5 separate regions of the Homo sapiens genome follow, and all the other regions are linked to region 1. The links come from fine-mapping of genetic effects on gene expression. A gene starts in region 1. Each other region holds a variant in brackets. All regions are shown on one strand. Distances are between the middles of the regions. Region 1 holds the start of RTN4 (reticulon 4). Region 2 has its middle 45 kb from the start of RTN4. Region 3 has its middle 20 kb from the start of RTN4. Region 4 overlaps LOC105374662 (a long non-coding RNA gene). Region 5 overlaps EML6 (EMAP like 6).

Evidence for each region. PIP is the estimated chance that this variant, and not a neighbour inherited with it, causes the effect.
Region 2: its variant is the best candidate, but not a certain one, in a credible set for the expression of RTN4 in atrial appendage (GTEx, PIP 0.79).
Region 3: its variant is the best candidate, but not a certain one, in a credible set for the expression of RTN4 in sun-exposed skin (GTEx, PIP 0.57).
Region 4: its variant is the best candidate, but not a certain one, in a credible set for the expression of RTN4 in whole blood (TOPMed, PIP 0.62).
Region 5: its variant is the best candidate, but not a certain one, in a credible set for the expression of RTN4 in pancreas (GTEx, PIP 0.53).

What each region holds. Positions count from the first base shown.
Region 1 is chr2:55,048,463-55,053,569 of GRCh38, forward strand. It overlaps RTN4 (reticulon 4), which reads right to left and starts at 1,989. Exons shown (of 9, transcript NM_020532.5): 1 at 1,283-1,989. The coding sequence starts at 1,838. RefSeq lists enhancers at 995-1,807, 1,770-1,819 and silencers at 1,310-1,429, 1,570-1,629.
Region 2 is chr2:55,092,890-55,097,996 of GRCh38, forward strand. It overlaps a transcript of RTN4 not described here. Among named protein-coding and RNA genes, the nearest start is that of RTN4, 45 kb to the left of the region's middle. The variant G/A (reference allele first, on the strand shown) is at 3,158.
Region 3 is chr2:55,068,068-55,073,174 of GRCh38, forward strand. It overlaps a transcript of RTN4 not described here. Among named protein-coding and RNA genes, the nearest start is that of RTN4, 20 kb to the left of the region's middle. The variant T/C (reference allele first, on the strand shown) is at 2,951.
Region 4 is chr2:55,081,876-55,086,982 of GRCh38, forward strand. It overlaps LOC105374662 (a long non-coding RNA gene), which reads left to right. Exons shown (of 3, transcript XR_002959387.2): 2 at 303-432; 3 at 4,972-5,107. It also overlaps a transcript of RTN4 not described here. Among named protein-coding and RNA genes, the nearest start is that of RTN4, 34 kb to the left of the region's middle. The variant C/A (reference allele first, on the strand shown) is at 1,949.
Region 5 is chr2:54,916,131-54,921,237 of GRCh38, forward strand. EML6 (EMAP like 6) reads left to right here. Exons shown (of 42, transcript NM_001039753.4): 26 at 629-805. Among named protein-coding and RNA genes, the nearest start is that of RTN4, 130 kb to the right of the region's middle. The variant G/C (reference allele first, on the strand shown) is at 2,733.

The DNA.
Region 1 (5,107 bases):
AAGAAATTTTATATTCTTATTCTATAAGCTTTTTTCTATTTTTTTTTTAACTTTTGTTAAAAACTAAGATACAAACGCATTACCCTAGGCCTACACAGGGTCAAGATCAAGACGTCGCTAGGCGGCAGGAATTTTTCAGCTCCATTACAACCTTATGGAGCCACCGTTGCAAATGCGGTCTGTCCTTGACCTAAACGTCGTTATGAGGCACGTGACCGTATTTTGATTCTGTAACCTAAAACATATCCTTCTGAAAAACAGTATTTCTAACCAATATATATGAAAATGTCTGTCTCAAAACATTTCTCTGTGTCTCATGGTAAATCTGCCACGAGTTCAATTAGCCAATTCCTGGCAAGGAATCCACAGGTTTTCCCTTCTTTAGGAATGTCAACCATTTTGCCTTTTATTTTTTTCTGTAAGATTCAATTATGATGCACTAAGAGGCTGGGCCAAGTCCACACTAACAGCAATTCCTCCGACCCTGCAGCTGAAACCCCGGCAGAACTACGCCCCCTCGAACACAATGCCTAGATCCCCTTTCCCTGGCTCGGTTTAGCTGGTGGGGAGCAGTCCACATCACACCCCGGGGAGCTGGGCGGTGGCAGGACTTTACCAGAACTCTCTCCTTCCCATTTCTCCACGCACCACACCACTGGAGGCGCTCTCCCTTCACTGCGGTTGGGTCAATGTGGACGTTTTCCACTCGGCCAGCTCCCCACGAGCACAGGAGGAGGGGGAGGGGAAGCGCAAAGGGGCCACCCACGCCAGCCAGGAGGTGAGGAGGGAGCCCGGGGCAGAATGCAGGCCAACAGACCCGCAGCAAAACTGCACCTTTTCCAAAGGAGCAACCCAGACGGGTAGACAAAAGCACCTCCTAAAAATATCTGGGTGCCAAGGCCTTTCCTTCCTCACCTCGAAGCCCAACCAACCCGATAAATCCACAACCCTGGCTCTCGGGTATATACCCGGCTCCTACTACGGGTGGGTGCCTAACTTCCGAGAATCCGTACGCTGGGCATCACACAGGGTGAAAGTGGGAGCCGGGAGCGGTGCACGTGTTCCCCGAAACCAAGACGGACAATAAGAACAAACCCGGGCTCCAAGGGCCGCCCCACCCTTCTCCCCGCGCTTCCAACCAGACGGGGCGCCATCGCCCCGAAGTCCGCAGACAAAGCGCCCTCGGGGCGGAGAGGAGGGACCAGCCCAAAGCATCTGGGGCTGCACACAAAAGAGGGAGGGGCGCGAGGGGCGGCGCGAAGCGAGAGGTCGCGGCACTCACCCACTGAGCCCGAGGAGCCCCTGCGCTTGGGCGCGGCCGGGGTGGAGGGGGGCGCGGCGGGAGCCGGGGCTGGCGGGGTCCACACGGGCTCTGCCTGGGGGCTCACGCTGGCCGGGGGAGGAGGGGGAGGCCGGGCCGGAGGCTCGTCGTCCTCAGGGAGCTTGGAGGGCGAGACTGCGGCAGCAGACAGCGGGGATGGCGCGGGCACGGTCGACGACACCGGGCTCGGGTCCCAAGACGGCTGCCGCTCCGGGGCGACGGGGGGAGCGGCCGGCAGGGGTCCCCGGGGCGCCGGCGGCACGAAGTCATTTCCGAAGTCCATCAGGGGCGCGCCGGCGGCAGGGGCGGTGGGCACTGGGGCCGCGGACAGCCCGGCGGCGGGCTTCCTCTCCAGCACCTCCAGCTCCTCCAGGTCTTCGTCCTCGTCCTCCTCTTCCTCCTCCTCTTCTTCCTCCTCGTCCTCGGGCTCCCTCACGAACTGGTACTTGAACGCGGGCTGCGGCCGGGGTGGGCTGTCCGAGGACGAGACCAGAGGAGACTGGTCCAGGTCTTCCATGGCTGGAGGGTGGAGATGATGCTGCAGCTGCTGCCGCCGCCGCCGGGGCCGCGTCTCAGAGCCGCGGGCGGTTGTGGGGGTTGGGGAGGACTGAGAGGGGCTGGGCCGACTGAGCCGAGGGACCTACTGTGGTGACGGCTCCCGGAACAATGAGACTGCTCCTCCTGCCTCCGCGCCGGTGATGCGCCACCCGCCCTGTCCCCACTTGCCGCCGCCGCCCAGATGAGCTAGGAGTGAGGCCAGCGGACTCTCCGCCCAGTTTGGCGTGACTCACCCTCCCCAGGGGAGGGCAGGGACTGGCGCGGGAGGGAGAGAGCCAATCGGCTACAGGATCGAGAAGATAGGCGACCAGCCGGGCCAACAGAAAGGGAAGGAGATGAAAGTGGGTGGGGACTACGGCACTTCCTCTCTCTTACCGGCTGGGATTGCGTTCAATGGGCGGGGCTGAGAGCTGGGAGCTCCACCCCCACTTTGGGTAACCGTGAGTTGGGGTGGGGTCTTGGCCTTGCCCGCAGCTGGCGTCCGTATGTCGTTAGAGCACTGGGAAAGGGGGCGGGCTGCTGGCTGGGAGGGGTCGGCGCGGTTTCTGGCGCGCCACCGGAAGGGCGTTATCCTGGGGGAACTGAGAGTGGAAACTTTCCTCCCGGGAAAGGAAGAAACCCGACTGGAGAAAGGTATTAGCGGGACTGGGAAGTGGGCCCTAAGGATTTTTAAAGATTTTTGAAATAAAAGATTATTTGTTCACTCAAAGTTCCAAACTACATCACTACTACTACCACCCTAAAATAAGAAAAAAATTGTTTTTTGACAGTTAGGCTCACTCAGTCTAAACCGCAGCCCCCGAAATTGGGAGGAAAACAGCTGTGCTGAATTAACTAGGGATCTGGGGCCGACCATTTGAAAGTCTGCTCTTCTTCCAAAGAGAGTTTGGGGCCTTGCCTGCTGGACTCTTACATGGTAAGAGAGTGAGTCACCCAAAGAGAGAGGCAGCGGGGAGACAGGAAAGTGGAAATACAAAGATGCCTTGGAAAGCTAATTTGGTTCACGTTACATTTCAGTCACCTTAGGTTCATGAGTCAACATTTCGGATGATTCAGGCTTTCTGGGAGTCAGGAAGCCCCATAGTCATTGGTTTGATATGCAGGAATAAGCATGATCCCCATTCCACTTTTTATGAGGCTGGAGAGTTTAAAGAGAGTAGTTGCAGAACATCTTTGTAAGAATCAGGATCCTTTTATCTTTCTGATTTACCTTTCAAAAATATTCACTGCATGCCTACTCTGGAGGCCCTGGAGAGAAGAGGATAACCTGCTTTCAAGTTGCTCAAAGTCTAAATCTGTGCTGTACCTGACAGGTACTGGCTACTTGTGGCTACTGATTGAACACTCGGAATGTATGTAGCTAGGCTGAAATTAGATGTGCTGTAAGTGTAAAATGCGCACTGGATTTCAAGAATTAGTACCTCCGAAATGTAAAATATCTCAGCTTTCCTGTTGACTGAATGTTGAAATTGATATTTTGGATATATTGGGATAAGTATAATATTATTAAATTAATTTTACTTGTTCCTTTTAAAGCAGCTTCTAGAGTTTTTTAAATACATAATGGCTCACATTATATTTCTTTTGGACAGTGCTAGTCTAGATTAATAATTAAGAAAGTTTGATTGCCATGGGGAATCACTGGCAAATTCTTAGCTCCAACTAATTTATATTACTGTGGCTTAATTTGGGTATTAAAAAAGAAAAGTAAGAGTTGGAGGGAGGGATAAATAGGTGGAACACAGAAGATTTTGGGGGCAGTGAAACTGTTCTGTATTATCCTGTAATGGTGGATACATAACATTATGCATTTGACAAAACCCACAGGACTATACAACAGAAAGAGTGAACCCTAATGTAGACTATTGACTTTAGTTAATGATATATCAATATCAGTTCATCAGTTGTAACAAATGTACCACCTCAATGCGTTATGTTAATAATAATAGAGGAAACTGTGGTTAGGGGGCAGGAGTGAGAGTGTATGGGAACTCTGTACTTCCTGTTCAACTTTTCTGTAAACCTAAAACTGCTCTAAGAAATAAAGTTTATGAACCTTTAAAAAAGGAAAAGAATAAAGATTTCCTGGCAATGTTACTTGATTGGGTTAATTATCAACAATATATTCAAGACCTATCACATTAATTCCACGGAGAACTGGCTTTATTTGTGCAAAACGTTTGTGACTTGCTTTGAGTTTGGTGTTATTTTTTGGAGGGGTTGGGAAGAGTAGGAAGAGAGATGTATTGATGTAGAATTTTGGGGCGGGAAGTTAATGCCAAATGAATTTAAACAAAACAAATTTCTACAATGGTGACTACAAGAGACATATTTGAAGTCTTTGTCAAATATTTATCAAAAATTATAAAAAATTTGCCTGATTTTCAACCAATTGCATAAACATACAAAAATATACTAACAGTATTTTATGATACGACCTTTTCTATTGTCACAGTTTAGCTATCAGCAGTCTTCCCCGCATGCTTTTCCCACTATGACTGTTCTGAAATTCCTTAATGATAAGTTTCACAGGGCCTTTATGTATGTCTAATATAAACAGGACTTACGTTATTTGCAAGTTGTTTATATGATATTTCTGCATTCATATATCCCTGTACCTACTACTACTAAAATAGTCTCAAAGGAGTATCTTTAATCAAAGTTTCACAAAAGAATAATTATAAATAGTAGATTTACAATTTTAATAGGAAATAGCAGTTAATATTGATGCAATAATATAAGCACTATCTGGTGCAGAATAAAAATAAATTTTATTAATCTCAGTGACTTCTAAAAAAATAAGTATTTGATAGATAGATGAGTAAAGAGTTTGCCCAGCTTTCATAGAATGATCAACAAAGCAAAAAGAAAGGAGGCTGTTGCTGCTCTACCACAATTAAAAGTAAAGCTAGTTATACATTGTTGTAACTAGATGTAAATATCACTATCACTAACAAAATTCTGGTGGACATTTGAACCAGTTAAAAGAAAAATGCACATTCTAGATACTAATAATAGTTTTAAAATAATTATTCAATAATTTATATTTGAAAATAGCTTATCAGACGGGCACCGTGACTCATGCCTATAATCCCCGCACTTTGGGTGGCTGAGGCGGGTAGATCTCTTGAGGTCAGGAGTTTGAGACCAGCCTGGCCAACATGGTGAAACCCCATCTCTACTAAAAATACCAAATTAGCAGGGCATGGTGGTGCACACCTGTAACCC
Region 2 (5,107 bases), 44 kb after region 1:
CTTCGCATTTTCTTCTTCTTCACAGACATTTTCCCAATGGGTAAAACTTTTTTGTTTGATTTTAAAAATTCACTTTTTCACTTATCTATTCAGTGTTGCTTACTGAGTTCTGACCACTAATAAAAATAACCATTGTGTGTGTGTCTATGTGTGTGTGTACGTGTGTAAAATATCAGAAGATAAGAGCCTTGCATTGTTCTAAGAGCTGCTTGAAAATGTCTGTGTTTTGATAGCTTATGATGCACATTCGTGGGCCAGCCAATTATAGTGACAGCTCTTTAATGAAGAAATGTCATACACATTAATATAGAATTTGTATTTGCTCTTAGTAATACCTGTAAGTGCCTAGTTCAACAGTTTTTGTGGTTGAAATGCTAAAAAATACAACTGAAATGCTGTTGAACTCTAAATGGCTAAATGCATGTATACCTGTATGTTGTTTTATTTACAAACACATAAACATATGTGTGTATTTTATACTTAAATAATTTATTCTATATATATTTAATTTATTTTATATATATATAGAATAAATTAAGCAATAATGTCCCTGGGCCCAAAGAAAGTATTCTTCATTCTCCTGTTACGCCAGAAAGGTGTTTATTATGCTGAGGGAAGTTCTTGCACTCATAACCTCTAAGTGATTCCGCAGCATAGCTTAGAGGTGATGCTTCTTCCGGAGGAAGCCCTGAGTCATTATCTGCATCTTTCCTGAGATCTGGAGAGTACAAGGGTACCAACACCTCTCCCTCCACGAGGCCAGGGGGGATTAGGAAAGAGTCAGAGATGAAGGAGAAAAGGAGAAGAGAAATTGGTAAGAGGAAAAAGGGTAAATGTCTCAATTGTTTCCTCCTCTGATTACAGCCAGAGGAAGGCAGTCTGAGGGCCCCTTAACTAACTCCCTGTTAAGGTCTGGCAAGGATATAATGCATTTCATTTAGCTATGCTTCTGTTACTTGAATGGTTTGCTTTTTCTAAGGGAAATAGAATTGGGAAAGGAATTATAAGGAAGAGAATTTTCTTGCTTTTATTCTATTTATAAATGGAATATGAGAGGGACATGGAAATAGCATGAAAGAGTCACAATTTTCTTACGATCACTAATATCCTACACTAATGTATCTGGGTGGCAGAGCGGATGGAGCCATAATGGTGTTTGTTATGGACTGAATCATGTTCCCCCAAGATTCATATGTTAAAGCTGCACCCTCAGTGTGATGGTATTAGGATGTGGAGCCTTTGGGGGGTAATTAGATTTAGATGAGGCCCTGAGAGTAGAGTCCCCATGATGGGATTAGTGCCTTCTAAGGAGAGATCTCTCTCTCTCCACCACATGAGGACACAGTGAGAAGGCAGCTGTCTGCAAGCCAGGAAGAAAGCCCTCACCAGGAATCCATCAGCACCTGCATTTTGGGCTTTTCAGCCTCCAGAACTGTAGGAAATACATGTTTGTTGTTGAAGTCACCCAGGCTGTGCTATTTTGTGACAGTCGCCAAGCTGACAAAGAGAGTGTTTTACATGAATTAATTAAGCAGATAATTCCTGAGCATCACTAGCACTCTGGGTACTGTTGCGCAGTGAAGTATAGAGCAGTGACCAATCAGGTGAGCTTCTGCTTTCATGGGACTTCAGTTTGAGTGGGAAAATACGCCACATACCATAAACAAGTAAACAGACAAGTAAATATTAGATAGTGATAAGAGCCATGAACAAAACACAACAGAGCCATGCTATGTGGAGTGACTGGGGAGGGGCTACTTTAGATCAGGTCATCAAAGGAGGCTTTCTGGGCAGGGGACATTTGAGATGAATGACAAGGAAGAGCTGACTAGGAGACAATCTGGTGGAAAACGTTTGAGGCACAAGGAACCATGGTGCTAACATCAGGTCTATGTAAGACTGACAGTTACCCCTGAGTTAGGTCAAGCAAAGAATGAAGTGGACTTGAGACAGGCTTGAGTGTTAATACCCAAAAGTGAAAGCAAGAGATGCACAGCAAGAAATTCATATAAGAAACTTCAGATTTTGAATACCAATGAAATAACCATGGTTTCCGAGTGACCTCCTACTCCACACAAGTCCTCCTCTTGTATTTCCCGTATTATCGCCATACTCCATCCACACAACATGCAATATCCAAATACCATAATAAGGCTGGGCGCGGTGGCTCACACCTGTAATCGCAGCACTTGGAAGGCCGAGGCAGGTGGATCACCTGACTTCAGGAGTTCGAGATCAGCCTGGCCAAAATGGTGAAACCCCGTCTGTACTTAAAATACAAAAATCAGCTGGGCAGTAGAGGCATGTGCCTGTAATCCTGGCTACTTGGGAGGCTGAGGCAGGAGAATCGCTTGAACCTGGCAGGCGGAAATTGCAGTGAGCCGAGATCGTGCCACTGCACTCTAGTCTGGGCGACAGAGTGAGATCCTGTCTCAAAAAAAAAAACACAGACAAAAAAACCCAAATATTATTATGAGGTTAATCACATCATCATCTACCTTCAATTAATTTTTGTAAAATAATTTTAAAAATTAACATCTTATATTTGTGAGGTCCATTTGTTATAATTGATGAACCAACCAATGTTGATACATTATTAATTGAAGTCCACACTATTCAGATTTTTTTCTTTTCTTTCAGTGAAACCCTGTCTTACTTTGCTGCCCAGGCTGGAGTATAAGTGGCTTAATGAGGGCTCACTGTAGCCTTGACCTCCCAGGGTCAAGTGGTCCTCCCACCTCGGCACTCCCTATCTCCCTGCCCCTGACTCCCCTAAATAGCTGGGACTATAGGCACTCGCCACCACACCTGGCTAATTTTTAAATTTTTTTTGTAGAGATGGGGATCTCACTATGTTGCCCAAGCTCTATGCAGATTTCAAATGCCCTTTTCCTGTTAGGATCCCATCCAGGATACCACATTGCATTTAGTCATGCTTTCTTAGGCTACTTTTGGCTCTAACAGTTTCCTAGACTTTCCCTGTTTTTGCTACCTTTGACAGTTTTGAGCAGGGACTGATCAGGCAATTTGTAGAATGTCCCTCACTTGGGATTTATCTGATGCTTTTCTCCTAATGGGACAGTGGTTATGGGTTATTGGGAGAGAGACTACAGAGGTAAAGTACCATTTTCATCCCACCATATAAGAGCGCATGCTG[G/A]GCCGGGTATGGTGGCTCACGCCTGTTCCTAGCACTTTGGGAGGCCGAGGCGGGTGGATTACCTGAGGACGGGAGTTCAAGCCCAACCTAACCAACATGGAGAAACCCCGTCTCTACTAAAAATACAAAATTAGCTGGGCGTGGTGGCGCATGCCTGTAATCCCAGGTACTCAGGAGGCTGAGGCAGGAGAATCGCTTGAACCCGGGAGGCGGAGGTTGCTGTGAGCCAATATCACACCATTGCACTCCAGCCTGGGCAACAAGAGCAAAACTCTGCCTCAAAAAAAAAAAAAGAGTGCATGCTACCACCAGGACTTATCACTGCTGATGCTGACCTTGATCTCTTGGCTGAGCTTCCAAGTGATTTTTGATTCCTCATTCTCCCATCCCTGGAATCTATCATTCATCAGGCCTCATCTAATATATCTCTCAAGGTTCTCTCCCAGAACCCACTCCTCATCAGCATTATCTCCACAGTCTCAAGTCTAAGTTCCCAGACTGTTCTCAGCATCCTGCACCACGTTATCAAAGCTCTAATCATAGCCTTTCTCTGGCTAAATAATCCCACTTAGGAATAAAACTTTTGTCTTAGTTGGAAGTTAAGGTCCAAGGTTTTCAGTGTTGCTTTGGGGTCTTTTTCTCAATCTGAACGCAAGCTACTTTCCAGTTTTGGCTCCTGCCCTGAGATCTGGGTGCCATGCTAGCACTCCACCACACCCTCTGCTCATTCTGTCATGCTGCAGCAGTTACTGTTTATTAAGCTTCTGTCCTGTGCCAGGCAGCTTTCTGGGCCCAGGAATACAAAAAATACGAAGAAAGGCTTCCCTACACTCAAGGAATGAGGTGTAGTTGGAGTGACAGTCATTGTAAATGGATAATTGCAAGGTTGTTAGGTAGATGCGAGGTATTTATTTGGGCATGTACAAATTTTAAAGGGAGCAACTAGGCCAAAGCCCCTCACTGTGGCCCCAGTACTTAGGGGAGATTATACTAAGATAGTGATATCTGAGCAATGATTTCAATAAAGAAAAAAGTTCACCAAGCAGACAAGAGGCCAAGAGAAGTTCTAGGCAGAGGGCACAGCACGAACTAAGGCATGGCCACTAAGCAATTTAATATGGAAGTATTTGCAAAAGATGAGTAAGAGCTAAATTGTGATAAAGGAGGATTGCTTGAGCCCAGGAGGTCAGGGCTGCAATGAGCCCTGATTGTGCCACTGCACTCCAGCCTGGATGACAGAGTGAAATTCTGTCTCAAAAAAAAAAAAAAAAAATTCCTTGGCCTCAGTCCAGACTCAGAATCAGAATTTCTGGGGTTGGGGGGAAAGCCTGGTAATTCTGCATTTGTAATCAAACCCCAGGTACTTCTTGTAAAGAAAGCTTTGGAACACTGGTACTCTAAGAGAATAATAGAAAACAAGATCAAAACAAGAAGAAACTGGAGGCAGAAAGAGCAGTTGGAAGACACTTGCTATTGCCCCAGAGATGGCAAAGCTTGAACCAAGGAGACAGCAGTGGGGGAAGGAGGAGGGGCAGCTTCAGGAGGCCTCGAAGAGGCAGACTGTCAGAGGTAGAGCTGCAGACGCCACCCAGGCCTCTAAGGATTCTATCTTGAACACTTTCATAAACATTGGGAATATGAGAGACGGAATAGGTTGCTGGGAAAGATAATGAGCTCAGTTTTGGAACATGTTGACTTTGAAGTGAAATCCATAATGAAGAGCTGACACTTGAACAGGCTGTTCTGGAACTCAGGATAGAGGTCAGGGCTGGAGATAAGGATTTCTGAATCATTTGAATCACCAGTGTATAGGCAAGAGCAGGAAAAGTGAAATTCCCCCAGGAAGCAGGTGGAGTCTGAAGGGCCAAGAATGACATATGGAAGCCTTCAGCACTCCCGCCCCTCCTCATCAACCTTCAGCCTCATCTTTCTCCTCTGTGCCCTTCCCCC
Region 3 (5,107 bases), 20 kb after region 1:
ATGAAGAAAATTTGGCCTTAAGCAGATATGTGGTTGGAAATGGGAAGAATATTTTAATGATTTTTTAAGATGATTGTGGATATTACTATTTGGTACCATATCAAAACTCAATAAGTAGTAGTTTCTTAAAGGTGATTTGCAGTGTGGAATCTGAAAGTATATCGATGAACATTTCCTACCCTGCTACATTAAAATCCATTGGTCTGTCTTGCACTCTGAATGGATCTTTCACCCATGCATCATCTAGTAACATCATATTGAAAATATCAGTACATAGACTTATTGATATCTTCCCAAGCTTGACACATTTCCTTAGATGATATTTTAAAATCATATTAATCATATCATCATTTCTTGCATCAGAAAAGTCTTTTAGTACTAGGAAACTGTCATACTCACAGTGGTGAATACAGGTCTTCCAAAATTCAAAATTTTAGTTGAAAACCCAAATTTTATCTTTAATAAACTACTGTCAGTTTTTCTTTCCTCAAAATGACAGGTTTACTTCATATGTTTTTGATTAAAGTTCTGCTGAATACCCAAGTTTGAATAACCACAGTTTGTCTGCCAGTCGCTCTTTCAAGTGAAAAATGGTGCTCTACAAAAAAAAAGGGGGGGGGGTGGGGGCTAGTTTGGCTTGCAGCTCAAATAATTGCATAAATGATTTGCTGAAGACAATCACTTTTGTACTTCAGTATGCAGCAACAATGCTTTCTGTGTACTTTCCATTTTATCACACAGAATGTTAAAAAATGGGCACTCAAGGGTCAAGATTTAATTAATACTTTTTACTACTTTGACAAGGACCTTCTTCAGTGAAACCGGCTTTTCTTTTTACTGTGAGTGCATGGAGGTGAAGAACACAAAGACAATTAGTGTACTTTAAAGCCACTGCCTTGATTTGTGCCAAGGCACCCAAAGTTCGCATCACCATTGCTTCTGCATCATCAGTGCAAAATTAGAGAGAAGTGGCACAAGGGGTGGGGAGAGGGCAAATAACATCTTAATATTATTATAAAAAGAGTTTGGACCTTGCAGACTTTCTGAAGAAATCTCAGGAGGAGCACCCAGGGGTCTGTGAACCACACTTTGAGAATTGCTGATCTAGATAATGACTAACACATTTTACCTAGCTCAGAAAAAAACCTAATTAGACTGGTTTAGTCCAGTCGTCTTCAAGAAATCAATTGCTTAGAGTATGAAAGTTCTAACCTTTATCAGTGAGATAAAAGTAATGCTTCTCATCCATGTCAGCATTCTTCTGGAAAATAAAATCCAAAATTACCTGGTCCTCTGTAACCGCCCCCCTCAAAAAAATCAGAAAGCCCCTCTAATACTCTAAGTGTTCCTCTTAGTAAATTCAACTCTGCCATTGTCTAAAAACAAACTGAAAATATCTGCATGGCCAGAGACTACTATCCACAGGGTTTATTGCTATTACACAAATAAGAGTTACAACTTGTAGGTGAGTATGGAGTATAATTGTTCACCCTCCTTTCAGAAGTAGAGTTAACTTCTAGGAAAATTCACCTGTGAGTTTCCTCTAAGGCACTAAGGGAAGGCCTCTGCCTCCTCCACCCAAGCATTCTTCCAAAATTAATAATAGAAGCTGGCAGATAAGCAGTCTCCCAGAGAGGCCCAACCGACATTCCTGGGGGCACCTGCAGGGCCTGCACCTCCACCCATCACCCAATGTCCACGAAGTTCAGTGTTTTCTCTAAGAGAGCAAGAAAAAGAGACCACAGTGGAACTGAACCATGTCAATTTGATGTCAAAGAGGAAAAAGAGAGAAACACAGGTACATGAATTAAGCCAAATGCTGGCTGGAGAAGTAGGGATGATGACAACTGGGGAAAGGATTGAGAGAAGGGATGAAGAATTAAGAGAAAGCAGCAAATGTGGGGTAAAAGATGGCACATTATTGAACTCCCTTTTAAAATGTCTTGCCCAGTGGTTTCGATGGCAGAGACTAATCATAGGGCAAACTGATAACATGCCAAGCACCATTAACCAAGGCAAAGAGACAGTCTAAAGCAGGGGTTCCTCAACCTCAGAACAATTAAAACTATGAGCTGGATAGTCTTTGTTATGGGGGCTGTCTTGTGCATTCTAGGATGTTTAGCGGGATCACCAGCTGCTACTCACTAGATGCCAGTAATACTCCAGTAATACACCCTTCCCCAAATCCTCCCCACCCCCCCAAACAAAAGGCCAGGCACAGTGGCTCGCACCTGTAATTCCAGCACTTTGGGAAGCTAAGGCAGAAGGATCCCGTGAGCTCAGGAGTTCAACATAGCGAGATCTTGTCTCTACTAAAAATGTTAAAATATTAACCAGGCATGGTGGCTCACACTTGTAGTCCCAGCTACTCAGCAGGCTGAGGCCAGAGGATCACTTGGGCCCAAGAAATCAAGGCTGTAGTGAGCTATGATCATGCCATTGCACTCCAGCCTGGGTGACTGAGCAAGACTCTGTCTCAAAAAAAAAAAAAAAAAAAAAGAAAGAAAGAAAGAAAAATAAAATACTCCCTCCCATTTGCAATAACCAAAAATGCCTTTGGGAAGAGGGATGAGATTAGGGGTGGGGAGCAAAATTGACTTTGGTTAAAAATCACCGGTCTATTATTATCTCAGCATATAAAAATCTCCACTCCTATCAAGGACAAACAGCTGTTTTGATTTTTGTTGTTGTTGTTGTTGTTGTTTGTTTTTTTGTTTTTCGTTTTTTTTGACAGAGTCTCTCTCTCTTGCCCAGGCTGGAGTACAGTGGTGCGATCTCGGCTCACTGCAAGCTCTGTCTCCCGGGTTCACGCCATTCTCCTGCCTCAGCCTCCCGAGTAGCTGGGACTACAGGTGCCCACCACCACGCCTGGCTAATTTTTTGTATTTTTATTAGAGATGGGGTTTCACTGTGTTAGCCAGGATGGTCTCAATCTCCTGACCTCGTGATC[T/C]TCCCACCTCGGCCTCCCAAAGTGCTGGGATTACAGGCGTGAGCCACCTCGCCCTGCCTTTTTTTTCTTCTTTTTTTTTTTTTAATGGAACTTTGAAACTCCAAGCCCAGTCTAAGTTCCTGGAAATGGTTTCAAATTATGCTTAGCTTCTACAATAATAATTTACTGGCCACCAGGGGGTCTCTTGCTTGTGATCTACAAGACAAAATGTCTGGCACAGTCAGTCATCCTGGGTCCTATTACTACCTTGCAATTAACTCTTTGTGTCTCAGTTTCATCATTTCTCAAATGGGAGCAATAGTACCTTCCCTACCTTCTGTACGGGTGATTATAAGGAAACAACGAAAGGAGATGGAAAAGTGCTTTGAAAGTTAAAAGAAAATGTAACCAGACATAACTAAGTCATTACGGTCTTTTCAGAAACTGGAAACACATTAACAAACAACCCTGTGTGTTTGATGCCCTTTTCTACTTCTAACTACATAGAATTTGTGTTGCTGGTATAGGAGAGGCACCATTTGCCATCAAAAAAAAAAAAAAAAAAAAAAGCCAGTCATTTACTTCTGCTAATGCAGAGAATATTTGTGATCTGGTTCTATGAAAAATGCTGCAGGCGATCACTGACTTCAGACTGTCAATTTATAGATTACCCCTTTTTAGCAAACCATAGCCCATACCCTTCACTGATGTCCCCAGCACTGCCGCAGTGCCTGTGGTTGTCAAAAAACCACAAACAAAACCCCTGAATCTTTTTAGAGATTCTATGGATTTATTAGTGAAGGGAGGGAAAAAGTTGTAAAGATCATAAACAGTTTAGGAGAGAGCAGTTCAAATTACTTTGTAAAGTAAAGATGTTATAATGACTGGGTTAGCTTGAGAATTTTGGAACCCCAAAGAGATTCCAAGAGAGAGAAGAGGAGAAAGTAAAGTTAGAAGATTGCTAAAATCAACTTCATTTATTTGAAAATTTTCCAGAGTACAAGAAAGTCAAAATGTTCATCATCTTCCTCCTCCGCTTCCTGCAATAAGCAGCTCCCACCACTATCCCAAATCATTAAGATGTCCTTCCATGGTATGGGTGTGCCACAATTGGTGTAAACAGTCCCTTATTGATGTGGATTGTTTTTAGTTATTTTTTTTTTCAAAAAAAAATATGTAAAACTGGAGTAAACAGAGTCAAAGAAAAGCATTATTTGTATTTATATTTTCTTTTCTTTTCTTTTTTTTTTTGAGGCAGAGCCTCGTTCTGTCTCCCAGGCTGGAGTGCAGTGGCGCGATCTCTGCTCACTGCAAGCTCCACCTCCCGTGTTCACGCCATTCTCCTGCCTCAGCCTCCCGAGTAGCTGGGACTACAGGTGCCCACCACCATGCCCAGCTGATTTTTTGTATTTTTAGTAGAGATGGGGTTTCACTGCGTTAGCCAGGATGGTCTCGATCTCCTGACCTCGTGATCCGCCTGCCTCAGCCTCCCAAAGTGCTGGGATTACAGGCGTGAGCCACCGCACCCGGCCCAGTATTTATATTTTCTTAGGATACATTCTTGGTTGTGAAGCTTCTGGATCGAGGGGCATACACATTTTTTAAGTTTTCACTTTTGATAATAATTTTTTGAGCAATTTCTTCTCTTTAATTATCACAGTACCATCTTGCTGTTCTAGATATAACTGTACCACTTAGCACTTGAGCACGTGCCTAATGATATTCGATATGCATTCTAATTTTGAAATTCCCCAAAGGAATGTTTACATGATCTTCAAATCTGAAAAATCTCTAACTATAAGGATCACAACTATTACTGTTTTCTGCCATCTTTTACAGGATTACCATTTGTGCTTTATACTTCTTTATTAAATATGCCATGTTTATTTCAAATAATCAAAAGAGAAACTGTTAAAGTGTTTTTTCTGCAACTCTATCCCCTGAAAATGAGCTTCTTCAGTTGCTCGGCTCAGTTGCTCATTCTTTCATCTTATTCAATCACCCCTTCTAGCTTCCATCCCTCAATATAATTATTTATGTCTGCAATTTTATTAGGCAATTCTGTTAAGAGGCCAGACTGGGTTTTACATATTTTTAAATAAATTAAAAAGAAAAGTTTTACTGTACCTACTATACAACAGCAAAGAAAGACAATTCTAACTAGCCATGTGTCTCACA
Region 4 (5,107 bases), 33 kb after region 1:
AAAAAATGAGTGAGAGAGAGATCTATCCCCTGCCTTTTTGCTAATCAAGATTGCTAATTCATTTTTATCAAATATGATGAAAAAGAGGCCTTACATACTTCTGCTTTTTTCCCTCATGCTGCCTTTAAATATAACAGCCATTTGATTCTTTCAGGTAGATGGGTACTTTACTTGGTAGAAGGCCTAAACTGAATTTCAACCCTTGACATAGTCAAGAAGCATAAATGTGCAATAATCTGTATAAAGACAGTATCTTTAATCTCTTTACAGAGATTATTTCTAACTGGCTATACCACTTCCAGGTATGGAACAGGCTGACAGAGCTGGATCCAAAGGGCTCAGAATGGAGCAACCAAGGTGTATTCACCTGATGCTTTGGTCTCCCTAAGCTCTTCCATAGAAACGATCATATATCACCTCGGCAATTGTTTTGTAAGTACTCAGAGATTATATCACAACAAAAATGCTATTGTAGATTCATATATCTCTCAAAAGCCAGAGACTTGAGAACAGCCAAATCAGGAGCAGCCACCACAAACCAAACTACCACACTCCCAACATGCTCCTGAAACAGGCCATCCCCAGCAAGCCCAGCCTTGGCGACTGGCCCAATTTCACCCACCCCTGGCCAGGTAGAGACCAATCTATAACACATTTCCAAAGCCTTATCTGTCTATAAGCCTTGGCTCAGTGATTCCACTTAAGAAAATAATCCTAAATTTCTGCAAAGCTCAAGAAAGCAAATATGTATTATGCTAAGTTCTATGCATCATAAACCATGGTAGGTGTTGGAAACAATAAAATTATTGCTTGCCCTTATGAACTTTATAAAGTGAACTGGAAATTTTATACTTCTCATTTACTGAATGCCTCCTATGTACCAGGTGCTCTACTAGGCATTTTATATGTGTTATCTCACTTAATCGTTACAGCCTATAAAATATAAGTAGTATCACCCATATCTCACATTAAAGCGGTTGAGTAATTTGTCCCAAGTCACACAGCTAAGAAGTAGCATTTCTCTGAGACCGCGCCACTGCACTCCAGCTTGGGCAACAGAACGAGACTCCGTCTCAAAAAAAAAAGAAGTAGCATTTCTGAGATTCAAACTCAGGTCTAAAGCTTTTCAAATTTCGTGTTTTACCCACCAAGCTGCATTATATATTTTAAATAACAGTAACAACATCAACAACCATCTAATGTAAACAATAGAGGAATGAGTACATAAGTTAATATCAATAGGTTGGATATGCAGCCATTAAAAGTGATATCTATGACAGTTTGTCACAACACAGAAAATTGCTTGCTTATAAATATAACAATAAAAACAGGATGTGGGGCTGGGTGTGGTGGCTCATGCCTGTAATCCCTGCACTTTGGAAGGCCAAGGTGGGAGGAACACTTGAGACCAGAAGTTTGAGACCAGCCTGGCCAACGTGGCAAAACCCCGTCTCTACTAAAAATACAAAAATTAGCCAGGCATGGTGGTATGCACCTGTGGTCCCAGGTACTTGGGCAGCTGAGGCACGAGGATTGCTTGAGCCTGGGAGGCAGAGGTTGCAGTGAGCCAAGATTGCGCCACTGCACTTCCGGCCTGGACAACAAAGCGAGACTCCGTCTCAAAGAAGAAAAAAAAACAACCAGGATGTGAATTCATATACTATGATTTAAACTATGATTAAAACACATACACACACACGTACTAGAATAAAAAGCACATTTAAAAAAATAGGTAAACCTCCTGCACTTTCACTTAAATAATACAAAATTAAGGGAAACTATAAGGGGAAAAATTGTGTTTTCACATACAATTCAGACAAAACAGTTGACCCAAGCCTATTTAAAATGGGGACTAGATCCTCTTTCCCCTAACAGTTACTTTAAAAATTTCCTCTCATCATCCTATCTTCTGTGTGAAATAAGAAGAAGCATATATTTGGTCTGACCC[C/A]AGTTCCTGGCACACAGCTCCTAAAACCCTTGTAATTTCCTGAGCATCTCAATTGCTAGGTGCATTCTTTGTTCTAATATTTGGTCTTTGACCCTGGTTCCTGAAACAGAGCTTAATTCCTTGGAGTTTCTTGGGTTAAAGGAGCACCTTTTGTTCTAATGAGGTGACTCTTCATGGGTTTCTGGAAGGGGGGTGGTCACCAGAAAGACCAACCCATGATTAAAAGTTTGGAACTTTCAGCCCTACTCTGCAACCTCCAGGAAGGAAAGAGGGACTGCATTTGAGTTAATTGTTGATCATGTCTACATGATTAAGCCTCCATAAAAATCCCCAAACTACGGGGTTCAGAGAGCTTCCGGGTTGCTGAAATCATGGAAGGTGGCATCCCCTAAGAGGCCATAAAAGCTCACAACCCCTTCCCCATACATTGCCTTGTGCATCTTTTTCATCTGGCTGTTCCTGAGTTGCATCCCCCCTGCCTTTTTTTTTTTTTTTTAAATAGAGGTGGGGTCTCACTATGTTGCCTAGGCTGGTCTTGATCTCCTGGGCTCATGTGATCCTCCAGCCTGAGTCTCTGAAATTGCTGGGATTACAGGTGTGAGCCACCATGCCTGGCCATGAATTGCATCCTGTTATAATAACAGGTAAACAAAAGTAAAGAGTTCTCTGAGTTCTGTGAGCCATTCTAGCAAATGATTGAACCCCTGGGGGGTCATGGGAACCTCTGATTTGTAACCAAGTCAGACAAAAGGTGTGGGTAATCTGGGAACCTACTATTTGCACTTGGCATCTGATGTTTGGGGCAGTCTCATGGGATTGAGCCCTTAACCTGTGGCGTCTGTGCTGACTAGAGTAAGTGTCAGAACTGAATTAAATTGTAGGATACCCAGTCAATGTCTGCCAAGAAGTGGAGAATTGCTTAATGTGGCCAAAACTCACACATTTTGGTGACCAGAAACATCTGTGTTGTTGCTGTTTTGAGACAGGGTCTTGCTCTGTCACTCAGGCTGGAGTGCAATGGCGCAATCACAGCTCACTGCAGCCTGAACCTCCTGGGCTCAAGTGATCCCCCCTGACACTCAGCCAACCAACTAGCTGGGACTTAAGGCACACATCACCATGTCCAGCTAATTTTTAAAGAAAATATTGTAGAGACTAGATCTTACTATGTTGCCCAGGCTGGTCTTTTACTCCTGGGTTCAAACGATCCTCCTGCCTTGACCTCCCAAGGTGCTAGGATTAAGGCATGAGCCACTGCACCTAGCTCTTTGTTGCTTTGAGAGTATAAACAGTAGGAGAAGACATTTTAGGTTTTTCCTATTGCACACTGTATTAATTAGGGTTCTCCAGAGAAATAGAACTGTGTGTGTGTGCGTAGACATAACAGGAGATATATACACACACATCCTATTGGTTCTGTTTCTCTGGAGAACCCAAACACAGTGTGTAATAGGTGTGTGTGGGGGTGTGTGTGTATATATACATATACACCCACACACACACACATAGAAGGAGAGAGAGGTAGATAAATCTGTTCCAAGGAACTGGCAATTGTGGGAGCTAGCAAGTCCAAAATCTGCAGGGCAGCCTGGAGACCTGGAGAGGAGTGGGTGTTGCAGTCTTCAGTTCGATGGCAGTCTAGAGGCAGAATTTCTTTCTCCTCAGAGGAGCTCAGTCTCTTAAGACCCTCAACTGATTGTGTGATGCCCACCCTCATAATAAAGGGGAATCTGTTTTACTCAAAGCTGACAATTTAGATGCTAATCTCATCTTAAAAGTACCTCACAGCAACATCTAGACATGTTTGCTCAAATAACTGGGCACCATAGCCTAACAAATTCAAACATAAAAATGAATCATATTATAATCCTTCCCCAATCTACATAGAAAAAAATGAATGAGTATTTCACATCCTGAAACACAGGCTCATTCCATCCTTTGATAAACATTATTGAAGGCCTGGCCCCTTTCTAACGTTAGGCCCATTATGAGACATAAATATAATCTCGCTGCACATTTGTTGGATCATAACAAATCAAATCTGTAGCCCCTTAATGTTTACAAAATATGTTCATAAATACATCTTGTGTAATCTTCACAAATCATTATTGCAGTCCTCATTTGACCAAAAATAAGGCAAGAGAGAATACTCTGACACATCAAAGATTGTAGCGTCAATAGGTGATAGAGCCAACAAGAGTCAGATCTTCTGACATTTCTTCATCAGATAGAGCCCTTTCTTCATCACATGGACACTGTGAACAGAAGTAACACAGGTCCTCAAGGATAGCAGCTATTTTATTATTTCCCAATTAATCTACATTGAAAAGACACAAAGATCAAGATGCCTAGCTTATTCCCCTGACTGGGAATATAAAGTTGTAAAACAACTTTAGGAATTGATCACTGTCTACAAGTAGTGTTTAGTTTTGTTTTTAACTTTTATTAAAGTATAGCATGCTAACTCAGATTATAAGTTTACACCTCAATAAATTTTCACAAAATGAATACCCCTGTGTAACTGTTACCAAGATCAAGAAATAGAATATGACCAGGGCTGGGTGCAGTGGCTCGCACCTGTAATCCCAGAACGTTGGGAGGCCAAGGCAGGAGGATTGTTTGTGCCCAGGAATTCAAGACCACCCTGGGCAACATAGCCTGATCTAATCTCTACAAAAAAAAAAAAACATTTAAAAATTAGCCAAGCATGGTGGTATGCGCCTGTAGTTCCAACTGCTAGGGAGGCTGAGGTGGGAGGATCACTCAAGCCCACGATTTCGAGGCTGCAGTGAGCTGTGATCACACTACTGCACTTCAGCCTGGGCAACAGAGGGAGACACTGTCTCTAACCAACATAATAATAATAATTAATAATAATAATAACATCAGTATCTCAGAAGCCCTTTTGGGGCCCCCTTTCAGCCATCATCTTTCCCGCAAAGGTAACCACCATCCAGATATCTTTCACTGTCAACCAATTTTGCCTTTGTTTTCAACTTTAATTTATTTTTTTTTTTTTGTAGACGATTTCTCACTGTGTTTCTCAGAATGGTCTCAGACTCCTGGCCTCAAGCGATCCTTCTGCCTGAGCCTCCCAAAGTGCCGGGATTACAGGCATGAACCACTGCACTCAGCCTGTTTTCAACCTTATATAAATGG
Region 5 (5,107 bases), 130 kb before region 1:
ATTAAGCTTGCTGCAGAATCTTATTACTTTTTCCTCCAAGGAAGCAGTCATGTTTTTTAAAGTTGTGTCTTGTAACTTTTTAAAATAATTGGCTAAATGATCATCTCCATTGATCAGCCTAGGTCAGTGATTCTCAACTGAGAGCAATTTTGTTTCCCAGGAACATTTGGCAATGCCTGGGGACAAGGGTATGCTACTGGCATCCAGTGGGCGGAGACCAGAGATGCTCTAAACATCCTGACACGCACAGGACAGTCCCAACAACAAAGAATTTTCCAGCCTAAGACATCAGTGCTGGCGTTGGGGAATCTGGATCCAGCTTATGGCTTATACAATGATAAATGTCTAGTTAAGAACTAAAATACCTTATTATTATCAAATTTCCACAATTTCAAAATGTTCATTTTATCTAGAGAAAAACATTTGGGTATTTGACTGCAGTGTTGGCTTCTGAAGACAATGCAAATAACCACTTTAAATATGCAACTTAGAATTTGTGTACCTCAGCACTCAACACAAATGCCTAACGTTGGCAAAGTAATTTAGAATTACTCAGGTGCAAACTGTTTCTTTTAAATAAAACAAACTAGGTTGTGCAAAAATATCATTCTCTTTCGTTCTTTTTCAGATCGAGAAGATAGAGTGGGACACATGGACCTGTGTCCTGGGGCCCACCTGTGAGGGAATCTGGCCAGCACATAGCGATATAACTGACGTAAATGCTGCCAGTCTTACCAAAGACTGTTCCCTTTTAGCCACCGGAGATGATTTTGGTTTCGTTAAGCTTTTTTCATATCCTGTCAAGGTAATATTGCGTGTTTATTATCTTTACTTGCTCAGTCTCCTTAATAACCTTAAATATTGTATCTAAGTGCATTTTTAAAAATTTGAAGTCATAAGCAATTCACATTATCGGAGTATTATTTATGCTGTATAAAAACCTCCCTGACATTGTGTTTGAGTGACTAATTTCAGTGCAATTCTCATGGCATAGAATTCTACCTTGAAAGGCCTTCAGTGGTCACCAAATCCAACATCTCACAAACTGCAAAGTAAGTGTTACCTTTACAACCTCACAGACCAGTGCCTTTCTAACTTTCATTAGGATACTTCCACAGATGAGGAACTTAATATCACACAGCACCCCAACTGATTTTTAAATACCTCCAATTGTTAAAACGTTTTTATCTATCTTGAGCTGAATTCTCTTCTTCCCTTTTTTTTTTTGTTTTTTTTTTTTTTTTTGTTTTTTGAGACGGAGTTTCACTCTTTTGCCCAGGCTGGAGTGCAGTGGCGCCATCTCGGCTGACCGCAACTTCTGCCTCCCAGGTTCAGGCAATTCCCTGCCTCAGCCTCCCGAGTAGCTGGATTACAGACGCCTGCCAGCACGCCAGACTAATTTTTGTATTTTTAGTAGAGAGAGGGTTTCACCATCTTGACCAGGCTGGTCTTGAACTCCTGACTTTGTGATCCACCCGCCTTGGCCTCCCAAACTGCTGGGATTATGGGCGTGAGCCACTGCGCCTGGCCTCTTTTCTTTTTAAATAAAGTTCTACCTTCTGAACCATCATTAAACCATTCCATTCCTCTAACAGCCGTCATCTGTAGTAAGATCACATTTGACTCCCCGAAGTCTCATTTTTTTTTCCAGCCTAACCTTTCTAGTTGCTTCAGCCATTTCCCATATTCGATGGCTTACAGCTGTCCCCTCCCTTAAGCACAGTCCAGTTTATCAATTCTTCCTTCAACTGTCTAGTCTAGAACTGTATTCAGTGTTCCAGTTGTAATCTGATCAGGTCAGAGCACAGTGGGACTGCTACCTTCTTGGTTTTGAGTTTTACACTTGTGTTAAATCAAACTAAAATGGCATTGGCCCTTTTGGCTGCCACACTACAAAATTGAATCATAGACGTCAATCTCAAAAATGTTCAGATTATCCCCAAGCCTGTACTTACACAATTGATTTTCTAAGATCTGAGTACAGAACTTTACATTTATACCCAAAGAGTTTTATTTATTTCTTCTCAGTGTTCCATCCTATCTGTATCTTTGAATACCTTGTCAGAGCATTTTCTCTCCCTTGCAGCATCATGTCATCCTCTGCTTTCACAATCCCGAGTTCTAAATCATAGAAAAAAAGACAGACTGGAACAATCACACGTCAACTCAAGGAACCTCCCCCTCAATTCAGTTTTACATTCCATTTATTTATTTATTTTAACTAATGAATGAATGAATGACAGGGTTTTGCTGTGTTTCCCAGGCTGGAATACAGTGGCACGATCACCGCTCACTGCAGCCTCTACCTTCTAGACTCAAGCAATCAATCCACCTCAGCCTCCCCAGTAGCTGGGATTATGTGCATACCACCATGCCCAGCTAATTTTTTTACTTTTTGTAGAGATGGGGTCTCACTATATTACCCAGGCTGGTCCCAAACTCTTGGACTCAAACAATCCTCCCACCTGGGCCTCCCAAAGTATTGGAATTATAATCATGAGCCACCATACCCAGCTGTCATTCTGTTTATTAATCTACACGTTGTAACAATTCTTTAATCAGTAACAGACATTTAAATTTACCCCCCTGTACAGTCATTTATCCTGGTCCAAGAAGACATCATTAAATTCTTGGCAAATGTCTTGCCTAAAGACAAGTGGATAGTGGTCTCTGTCATCCTTAATCTCTCCTTCTAATAAACCAACCAATAAAATATGTGAGGTTAGTTCACA[G/C]TGTACCCATTACTGTCTGGTTATCACTACTTCTTTTTCCAAATGCTTATCGAACTCCTGTGTAATATTTCATCCTAGAATTTTCCAGGGATTACATTACCTCATGAATCAATATTTTCCGGAGCCTATTTGTTTTCCCACTGGGATACAAGAACCGCTTTGTGTTTGATGCCACCTCTCCTGATTCCTAAACTTTTCAGCTATTACTGTATTATTTCTGTGGTCACGTTTGAAGGCACCTATACTCACGTAAATGAGTTCTGTTTTCTCCTTTGCGGTTTGAAGAACATTCTCTTTGACAGAGGAAATGAGAAATTGACTTTCAGTTCATGTGAAGCCACCTGATTGAGAAGTGTTCCTAACTTTCCTCTATTTTGCTTCCCCCCCCCCCCAATCCTTTTCAAAAGTCTTATTTTTTGTCTTTAGCATTCCAGAAACTACACTTAAAAGTTGGTGCAAGGCTTTTGTATTCAATCTCAATTATTTGCTACTCCTGTCATTTGTACATTTTAACCTGAACATAGCAGTTACCTCTATGGCCACTTTGGTTACTTTGGACACTTTTCCTTTCTTCTCCTTCCTTTGTTAATAACTGATTAGGTTATCATGGTGAGTAGCCCTGAGATACACATCTGTTTCTGTCCAGTGTTACGTTCATTGCCCATCCCAAAGCCGCCTGGCAACCTTCTGCCAATGATCTGTCACTTACCAGCCCTTCCTATTTGATCAGAATTTAGTTCTAAGTAGCCATTTTCCTTGCTATTTCTGTGTGTAAATGAAATTGCTAGCAGTACAAGGCAAAAAGTTAGTGATACCCTGGTTTTAGTAGACCAAGGTTTTGGAGCAGCTATTTAGATAACTAAATCCCCCACAGTACTATTGCATCTTGCTAGTACTTCCCCTACCTGACAAGGTGGCTTATCTATATATTAGTCATTTCAAGTTGTGTTCCTCAGACCAGAGTTCCAGGGAGGTATATCTCAGGTGGGAAGGAAGGAACCAGTGCAAAAGCTCTGGAATCCCGTTCCTGTTTCAACAAAGTTACACTATGTTTTGTATTTTGCACATTCATCTTCTGTGTATGCTTTTTTCTAAGATTTTATTGTGAAGATTTTGAAGCATACACATAAGACGAGAGAATAATATAGTGAACTAATAGAAACCCACAACCTAAATTCTGTAATTTAAAGTAAACTGTAGAATTAAGAAAGAAAAATAAAGATCTCAAATAACCTAACTTTACACTTCAGAAAACTAGGAAAAGAAGACCAAACTAAGCTTCCTGTTAGCAGAAGGAAGGAAATAATAAAGATTAGAACAGAAATAAATAAAATAGAGACTATAAAGAGAATAGAAAAGACCAATGAAACTAAGAGTTGGTGTTTTTGAAAAGGTAAAATTGACCAACCTTTAGCTAGACTAGCCAAAAAAAGGACTCAAATAAAATTATAAATGAAAGATGAGACATTATAACTGATACTGTAGAAATACAAAGGATCATAAGAGACTACTTTGAGCAATTACATGCCAACAAATTGGATAACCTGGAAGAAATGAAACATATCTGGAAATACACAGCCTACCAAAACTGAAGTGCAAAGAAATAGAAAATCTGAACAGATCAATAATGCACAAGAGATTGAATCTGTAATCAAGAACCTCCCAGAAAAGGCCAAGACCATGTGGCTTCATGTGTGATTTCTCCCAAGTATTTAAAGAAAAAATATTGCCAATCCTTTTTAAACTCTTTCAAAAAAAGAAAAAAAATTGAAGGGGAGGGAACACTTTTAAACTCTTCTTAGAAGGCCAGTAGAACCTTGATACCAAAACCAGATAAGGACATTACAAGAAAACTACAGGCCAATATGCCTGATGAATATAGGTGCAAAAATCTGAAACAAAATACTACAAACCAAATTCAACAGCACATTAAAAAGATCATACACCATGATCAAGTGGAATGTGTTCCTGGGATGCAAGGATGGTTCGACATATGCAAGTCAGTAAATGTGATGTACCACATAAAGAGAATAAAGGATAAAAATCATTTGATTATCTCAGTGGATGTGAGAAAAGGATGGACAAAATTCAACATCCTCTCATGATTAAAAACACTTCAATTAGATATAGAAGGAAGGAACTTCAATAAAGGCCATAAATGAAAAACCCACAACTAACATGCTCAATGATGAAAAGCCGAAAACTTTTCCTTTAAGATAAGGAACAAGACAAGGAAGTCCTAGCCAGAGCAATTAAGCAAGCAAAAGAGAGAAAAGGCATCCAGATCAGAAAGAAAGATGTAAAATTATCTCTATTTATGTACAACATGATCTTATATATAGAAAACCCTAAAGACCCCCCCAAAAGCTATTAGA